Regions from separate parts of the Homo sapiens genome. Here region 1 is linked to region 2. The links come from fine-mapping of genetic effects on gene expression. A gene starts in region 2. The other region holds a variant in brackets. All regions are shown on one strand. Distances are from middle to middle.

Region 1 (4,450 bases), 790 kb before region 2:
TTTTAATATTTTTAGTAGAGACAGGGTTTCACCATGTTAGCCAGGATGGTCTCAATCTCCTGACCTCGTGATCTGCCCACTTTGGCCTCCCGAAGTGCTGGGATTACAGGTGTGAGCCACCGTGCCTGGCCACAGTGGCTCACTTCTATAGACCCAGCTACTTGGGAGGCTGAGGCAGGAGGATCCCTTGAGCCTAGGAGCTCGAGGCTGCAGTGAGCCATGGTCAAACCACTCCAGCCTGGGGGACAGAGAGAGACCCTATCTCTGAAGAAATATGAAAATTTTGAAAAATTAAAAATAAAACCTGGACGGGCATGGTGGCTCACGCCTGTAATCTCAGCACTTTGGGAGGCCGAGGCAGGTGGATTACTTGAGATCAGGAGTTCAAGACCAGCCTGGCCAACATGGTGAAACCCTGTCTCTACTAAAAATACAAAAATTAGCTGGGCGTGGTGGCATGCACCTGTAGTCCCAGTTACTCAGGAGGCTGAGGCAGGAGAATCGCTTGAACCCAGGAGGTGGAGGTTGCAGTGAGCTGAGATTGCACCACTGCACTCCAGCCTGGGCAACAGTGAGACTCTGTCTCAAAAAATAATAATAAAAATATAAATAGTAAAATAAAATAAAATGTATGAGTACTCCTTTTTTGGTATCATGTATCACAGACAATATACAAAGACAATCACATGAAAATACATAAAGCTCCAAATAGACCTAAACAAAGACCCTATAGCCTTGATTGTAAAACTCTAGCCATGAGACTGGCAAAAATCACTAGTCCAGAAAGGACGGCTGGATTCAAGTTATGCTGCAATAAATGGAACAAGTCAAAAACCTCTTGTCCCACATGGCTCAATCCCTCACTCAGCCCCAGAGGAAACAAGATTGCAATCCATATCTTTTTTTTTTTTTTTTTTTTTTGAGAGACAGGATCTGGCTCTGTCACCTAGGCTGGAATGCAGAAGTGAAATATCGGTGGCTGCAGGAATTCAAGGCTGCAGAGAGCTATTATTGTACCATTGCACTTTAACCTGGGTGACAGAGCGAGACCTCAACTCTGAAATAGTAAAATAGGCCAGGCATGGTGGCTCATCCCTGTACTTTTGGAGGACGAGGTGGCTGGACCACCTGAGGTCAGGAGTTTGAGACCGGCCTGGGCAATATAGTGAAACCCCATCTCTACTAAAACTAAAAAAATTAGTGGGGCGTGGTGGCGGGCGCCTGTAGTCCCAGCTGCCAGGGAGGCTGCGGCAGGAGAATCATTTAAACCCGGGAGGCGGAGGTTGCAGTGAGCTGAGATGGCGCCACTGCACTCCAACCTGGGCGACAGAGGAAGACTTCATCTCAAAAATAAATAAATAATAAAAAAGAAATTAAACGGTGATGTGGAACACTCTTTAAATTGTCGTTCACCACATTTTCATATCTTCACAATAATGCAAAACACAGTCACTTGCAGAACCGGTTCTGATGACTTAAATACCAGGTACAATTTTAGCCCTCTACGTAATTGCTTGGAAGTTACTTATGTTTACATGAAATGAAACTATTAGGCCGGGCACATTGGCTCACGTCTGTAATCCCAGAACTTTGGGAGGCCAAGGTGGGCGGATCACCTGAGGTCAGGAGTTGGAGACCAGCCTGACCAACATGGAGAAGACCTGTCTCTACAAAAATACAAAATTAGCCGGGCGTGGTGGTGCATGCTTGTAATCCCAGCTACTCAGGAGGCTGAGGCAGGAGAATCGATTGAACCCAGCAGGCAGAGGTTGCAGTGAGCCAAGATCGTGCCATTGCACTTCAGCCTGGGCAACAAGAGCGAAACTTCATCTCAAAAAAAGAAAAGAAAAAAAGAAAAGAAACAAAATGAGACTATTAGGCTGGGCACGGTGGCTCACACCTGTAATCCAGCACTTTGGGAGGCTGAGGCAGGTGGATCAGCTGAGGCCAGGTGTTCGACACCAGCTTGGCCAACATGGCGAAACCCTGTCTCTACTAAAAATACAAAAAATTAGCCAGGCGTGGTGGCAGGTGCCTTAATCCTAGCTACTGGGGAGGCTGAGGCAGGAGAATTTTTTGAACTCGGTAAGTGGAGGTTGCAGTGAGCAGAGATTGTGCCATTGCTCTCTAGCCTGGGCGACAGAGACTCTGTCTCAAAACAAAAAAATGAAGCTATTAATACTTTTCTACAGCAGTAACTACACACAGGAAGACCAAGACAAGCACAAGTTAAGGAATGGAGCTTTCCCAAAGCGGCTGTGTATAAAGACTATAAACTGTTTTTTGTTTGTTTTTTGAGAACAAACAAACTCACTGCAGCCTTGACCTCCTCAGGCTCAAGCAATCCTGCCACATCAGCCTCCTGAGTAGCTGGGACTACAGGTGCTCACCACCACACCCGGCTAATTTTTGTATTTTTTGTAAAGA[T/C]AGAGTCTCACTATGTTGCCCAGGGTGGTCTCAAACTCCTAGACTCAAGTGATCCGCCCGTCTCAGACTCCCACAGTGCTAGGATTACAGGCGTGAGCTGCCGTGCCCGGCCGGACATACGTAGTTTTTTGCCATGGCTTTTCTTGTGTTCTCTATCTACAGGCTAAGCAGATTCTGTGTGCTGCCCTGGGGTCTTTAATTACTTCAAGTGCTCATGTTGAACTATGAATATGATTGTGTGTGTGATTGTTTTGTTTTTAGAGACAGGGGTCTCTGCCACCCAGGCTGGAGTGTAGTGAGGCAATCATGACTTACTTCCGTCTTGACTTCCTGGCCCAAGTGATCCTCCTGCCTCAGCCTCCCAAGTAGGTGGGATTACAGGCACACACCACCATGCCCAGCTAAGTTTTTAAAAATTGTTTTGTAGGCTGGGCATGGTAGCTCATACCTGTAATCACAGCACTTTGGAGGCCAAGGCAGGAGCCCAGGAGTTTACGACCAACTTGGGCAACGTAGGAAGACCCCCATCTCCACATACAGACACAGACAAAAAACAATGAACCGGGCATGGTGGCACTTGCCTGTAGTCCCAGCTACTTGGTAGGCTAAGATGGGAAGATCACTTCAGCCTTGGCGGTTGAGGCTGCAGTGAGCTATGCCTGATGGTGGCAGGAGGCAGTCGAATGCCTAGGCAGATACGGGCAGGTCCCCAGTGAAACCCCACCTTCAAGCCAAAGACAAAAAGCCTGAAAGCCAGCCAGGCACAGTGGCTCATGCCTGTAATCCCAGCACTTTGGAAGGCAGAGGTGGGTGGATCACCTGAGGTCAGGAGTTCGGGACCAGCCTGGCCAATATGGTGAAACCCCGTCTCTACTAAAAATACGAAAATTAGCCAGGCATGCCGGGTGCAGTGGCTCACGCCTGTAATCCCAGCACTTTGGGAGGCTGAGGCGGGTGAATCACAAGGTCAGGAGTTCAAGACCAACCCTGGCCAAGATGGTGAAAGCCCGTTGCTACTGAAACTACAAAAATTAGCCATGCGTGGTGGTGGGTGCCTGTAATCCCAGCTACTTGGGAGACTGAGGCAGGAGAATCGCTTGAACCTGGGCGGCAGAGGTTGCAGTGAGCCCGAGATTGCGCCACTGCACTCCAGCCTGCGACAGAGTGAGACTCTGTCTCAAAAAAAAAAAAAAAAAAAAAAATCAGCCGGGCATGGTGGCAGGTGCCTGTAATCCTAGGTACTCGGGAGGTTGAGGCAGGAGAATCACTTAATCCCGGGAGGCAGAGGTTGCAGTGAGCCAAGATCGCACCACTACACTCCAACCTGGGTGACAGGGCGAGACTCTGTCTCAAAAAAAAGAAAATCTTTAAATCTACCTATGACCTGGAAGCCCCCTCCCTTCAAGTTGTCCCTCCTTTCCTGACCAAACCAATGTACATATGATAGGTATTGATTGATGTATTATGTCTCCCTAAAAAGTATAAAAGCAACATGTGTCCACGTTGGGCACATGTTGCCAGGACCTCCTGAGGCTGTCACAGGCATGTCGTCAACCTTCGCAAAATAACCTTTCCAAACTTATTGACCACTAAAGAACTCATCCCTGTAACCAAAACCTGCCTGTTCCCCAAAAAGTATTGAAATAAAAAATAAATAAATTGGCCAGGCATGGTGGCTCACACCTGTAATCCTAGCACTTCAGGAGGCTGAGGTGGGCAGATGGCTTGAGGTCAGGAGTTGGAGACCTGCCTGACCAACATGGCAAAACCACGTCTCTACTAAAAATATAAAAATTAGCCAGACGCTGTGGGGCACGCCTGTAGTCCCAGCTACTTGGGAGACTGAGGCAGGAGAATCGCTTGAACCCGCGAGGTGGAGGTTGTGGTGAGCCGAGATCGCGCCACTGCACTGCAGCCTGGGCCACAGAGCAAAACTTCATCTCAAATAAATCAGTAAGTAGATTCATTGAGGCCTGTCTCAGATACTTTTGGTTTATAGCTCTCACTAACTAAACAACTCATG
Region 2 (4,204 bases):
GGACCCTACTGGTGGGTAGCGATGGAGGACGGGAGGCTAAGTGGACTGTGAGTCCTACGAAGAGGTCTGAGGACCAGGGAGGAGGAGACATGGGAACCCACGATCACCCATCACGTGGTTAGTGGACTGTGAGTCCTACGAAGAGGTCTGAGGACCAGGGAGGAGGAGACATGGGAACCCACGATCACCCATCACGTGGTTAGTGGACTGTGAGTCCTACGAAGAGGTCTGAGGACCAGGGAGGAGGAGACATGGGAACCCACGATCACCCATCACGTGGTTAGTGGACTGTGAGTCCTACGAAGAGGTCTGAGGACCAGGGAGGAGGAGACATGGGAACCCACGATCACCCATCACGTGGTTAGTGGACTGTGAGTCCTACGAAGAGGTCTGAGGACCAGGGAGGAGGAGACATGGGAACCCACGATCACCCATCACGTGGTTAGTGGACTGTGAGTCCTACGAAGAGGTCTGAGGACCAGGGAGGAGGAGACATGGGAACCCACGATCACCCATCACGTGGTTAGTGGACTGTGAGTCCTACGAAGAGGTCTGAGGACCAGGGAGGAGGAGACATGGGAACCCACGATCACCCATCACGTGGTTAGTGGACTGTGAGTCCTACGAAGAGGTCTGAGGACCAGGGAGGAGGAGACATGGGAACCCACGATCACCCATCACGTGGTTCAAAACAAGTACAAAGGAAAATATGGTGACCTCAGAAAAGCTCATAGAGTATATTAAATACGCTGGGTGTTAGTGATTAAAAGGGGACAAAACAGACATGCATTATCTGTAAAACCAAGTACACCAGATAGAATTTGAATGGATACAAAGAAACAAAATAGCCATTAGATTTCAAGGTAATAGAAAAAAGAGAAAATATTTTGTTTCATTTTCATCCTTTTTGAAAGTCAGGCTTCCGGTTCTGGGGTTCTGGGGAGGGACGTGGAGAGCCTTACCAACCAGCAGGGACCAGGACCGGATGCCTGGAGCCCTCTTCAGATGGAGGCGGGAGCTGGTGCGGGTCTCCACCTGCAGGTACATCCCGAGAGGGCAGCACCACTCTCTACAGGAGGAGGGGTCTGGGAACAGACAGAGGCAGCTGAGCCCTTGGGCCTGCACACAGGCAGGCGCCCACGCCATCAGGCCCAGTCTGGAGGCCAAGAGCAGGTCCCCCAACTAAGTCACCTGCAGCCCCAGACACCATCAGCCAGTCTCACCTGGTCTCTGTGGTTGGGCACGTCACTGGATCCCCCAGAGACCCCGTTTCCTGTGTAAGGAAGGCCCTTTTCCGTTCACAGCGACACCGACTGCGCGGGGGCTGTTTCCCGCTCAGACTCACGAGCTACAGCTGCATCACCACCTGCCCCGTCCTGTCTGGAAACCTTATGTCCTGAGGCCGCTAGCCCCCAGCAGCCTTTAAGCTTCTAGCATCTGTGGGCACCCCCTCTCCCCTGTGCTGGCCTCCACCAAGAAAGGAACTGAAAGTCCCATCATGGCTTCCGGCCGTACTGGCTCTCGCACTGGCATGGACCAACGATCTCAGCTCTCTCTCTGCCCTCCTCCACCTGCTGAAAGTTCAGACTGCACAGTAGAGGGTCCCAAAGCGGCCAGAACCGACGAGTCACCAAAGGGGCTAATCTTCCACAGCGGAGTTCCGCACGGGCGCAGCAGCCCTGCCACTTCACCGTACGCTCCCAACACTGGCCCCAGGGACCCCGTTCTGGTAGTTTCTCAGGGCTTTCCCTGTGAAGTCAAATCAAATTTCTGACATTAAGTAGGGGGTTCAGGCTGGGCGCGGTGGCTCAGGCCTGTAATCTCAGCACTTTGGGAGGACGAGGCGTGCGGATTGTTTGAGTCACGGAGTTCAAGACCAGCCAGGGCAACGTGGCGAAACCCCGTCTCCACAGAAAATACATAAAACAGCCCGGTGTGGTGGTGTACGCCTGTGGTCCTAGTTATTCAGGAGGCTGAGCTGGGAGGATCACCTGAGGCCGGGAGGTGGAGGCTGCAGTGAGCAGAAATCGTGCCACTGGACTCCAGCCTGGGTGACAGAGTGAGACCGTGTCTCAAAAAAATAAAAAATAGTGGGTTCAAATCACACAAACCAATCCTAGATGCTGGTATATGACTGGGCTCCCTCCCGGGCCTCAGTTGCCTCATTGCTCCCGAAACACCCGGCATTCCACATCCAAATGCACACACACACGCACACTCGCGGACACAAGCACACGCGCGCTGGCAAAGCCGCCCGCGCCGCTAGTCGCACCGAGCGCTCGTTTCTTTGTCCGGATCGGGGGCGCTCCCGCCGCCGGGGCCAACCTGCAGCGGAACAGGCGCGAGGCCGCCCGCGACGGGCACGGCGGGACACGGAACAGCCGGCAGGCGGGCCCAGGACGCAGACCCCTCCCGGAGTGGGCCTAAGGGTGCCGGGACGCGCGGCACGGAGCGGGAAGGAAGTGCGGAGCCCACCCAGCCCAGCCGCCTACCGAGAGCACAGCGGTCCCCGCGCCGCAGCAGAGAGACGCGAACCGGCGGGGGCGGGGCCGCGCGCACTTCCGGGATTGGAGCGGAGCCGAGCCGACTTTCGGGGGCGGGGCCGCGCGCGCTTCCGGGATTGGGGGCGGGGCCGCGCGCGCTTACGGGATTGGGGCGGGGCCGCAAGCATTTCCTGGATGGGGCGGAGCCGAGCGGATTTCCGGGATCCGGGCGGAGCCGCAGGAGGAGGCGGGTGGTTCCTGCTAAAGAAGCCAGTTTTCTTGAAAAAAAGAAACGTGCGGGGAAACGTATCCGACAGCAAAGAACTTACCAAGGACTATGAACGTCTTGCTAACATAGAAGCGAAACTGAAGCGGTTCTCATTGCCAAAAAAGAAGATTTGAGCATGAATAAGAACAGGAATTCGAGTGAATTTAAAATCCTCAGATGCTCCAGTCTGTAATTCATAATAATGTATTTTTTAACTCTGTTCACCTTTGGAGGATGCTGGTAAGCTCACCCCAGTTTGTGGCCTGGTTAATAAAAGGAAAGCATCAAGCATTTGTCCTGCCTTTATGAAATTTACAGCAGAGTAACCAAATACTGCATGAGAAGAATTTCTCATTATAGAAGTTTTCCCGCTAATAAATGAAGAAGAAACAGTAGGATTAAAACATCACCCTATGAATTAACGGACCTAGGCAATGTCATCAATGACTGCTAATTAACATCGCAAAAAGGTCAGTTAGATATCAGAAGTACACAACACTATGAAGTAGTCTTGCCAGAAAAAATTTAACCTGAATGTGAACAAGCTTCTAGAGTGAATTACTGGAAATGTGGAAGACAAGACTGTACTAAAGGATTCTACAAGGATACAGTCAGCAATTCGAAACCTCAACCATCTGAATGGACCCTTCCGCTTGGCCAAGAGCATTCCCAAGTTATCCTGAAAAACTAGCTCAGGCAGTGATGGGAAGGGGGAGACAGACATACCTCACTCCCTCCTCCCTTTTGGAATTCAGGCACACAGCTGACCAGCATTCACATTAAAACAGATCTTGAGGTGGCCAGGTGCGGTGGCTCACGCCTGTAATCCCAGCACTTTGGGAGGCCAAGGTGGGCAGATCACGAGGTCAGGAGATTGAGACCATCCTGGCTAACACAGTGAAACCTCATCTCTACTAAAAACACAAAAAAATTAGCTGGGCGTGGTGGCGGGTGCTCATAGTCCCAGCTACTCGGGAGGCTGAGGCAGGAGAATGGCGTGAACCCGGGAGGCAGAGCTTGCAGTGAGCCGAGATCGTGCCACTGCTCTCCAGCCTGGGCAACAGAGTGAGACTCCATCTCAATAAAAAATAACAAAACAAAACAAAAACAGATCTTGAAGTTGACAAAGTAGACTCTGTAGCAATGACGCCAAATTCCAGCCTGACTCTGGTATAGGACTACATGACAGATAGGAAGCCTTGGAAGAAATGGAAGTACTTTACCCCACATTAAATTTCTTCGACTTATTTTGAAATAGCCCTGCAAAGCTGTCCCTTGTGAAGAAAATCTACATTCTGTAGCGAATCCCCGTTCCTTTCCAGGTCTTTTTCCTGCTTCAGGGAGAACTCTGATAAGAAGCACTTACAATCTATTCTCTCTGAAGCCTGCTACCTGGAGACTTCCTCTGCTTAATGGAAATCTTGGTCTCCACAAACCCTTATCTTAACCTAAA

What was found. PIP is the estimated chance that this variant, and not a neighbour inherited with it, causes the effect.
Region 1: its variant is fine-mapped to the expression of CYBC1 in fibroblasts (GTEx, PIP 0.97).

The regions. Positions count from the first base shown.
Region 1 is chr17:81,658,253-81,662,702 of GRCh38, forward strand. It overlaps a transcript of PDE6G not described here. Among named protein-coding and RNA genes, the nearest start is that of PDE6G, 3.9 kb to the left of the region's middle. The variant T/C (reference allele first, on the strand shown) is at 2,428.
Region 2 is chr17:82,448,208-82,452,411 of GRCh38, forward strand. It overlaps CYBC1 (cytochrome b-245 chaperone 1), which reads right to left and starts at 2,545. Exons shown (of 7, transcript NM_001033046.4): 1 at 2,493-2,545; 2 at 963-1,085. The coding sequence starts at 1,047. RefSeq lists silencers at 886-935, 2,246-2,605 and an enhancer at 1,356-1,615.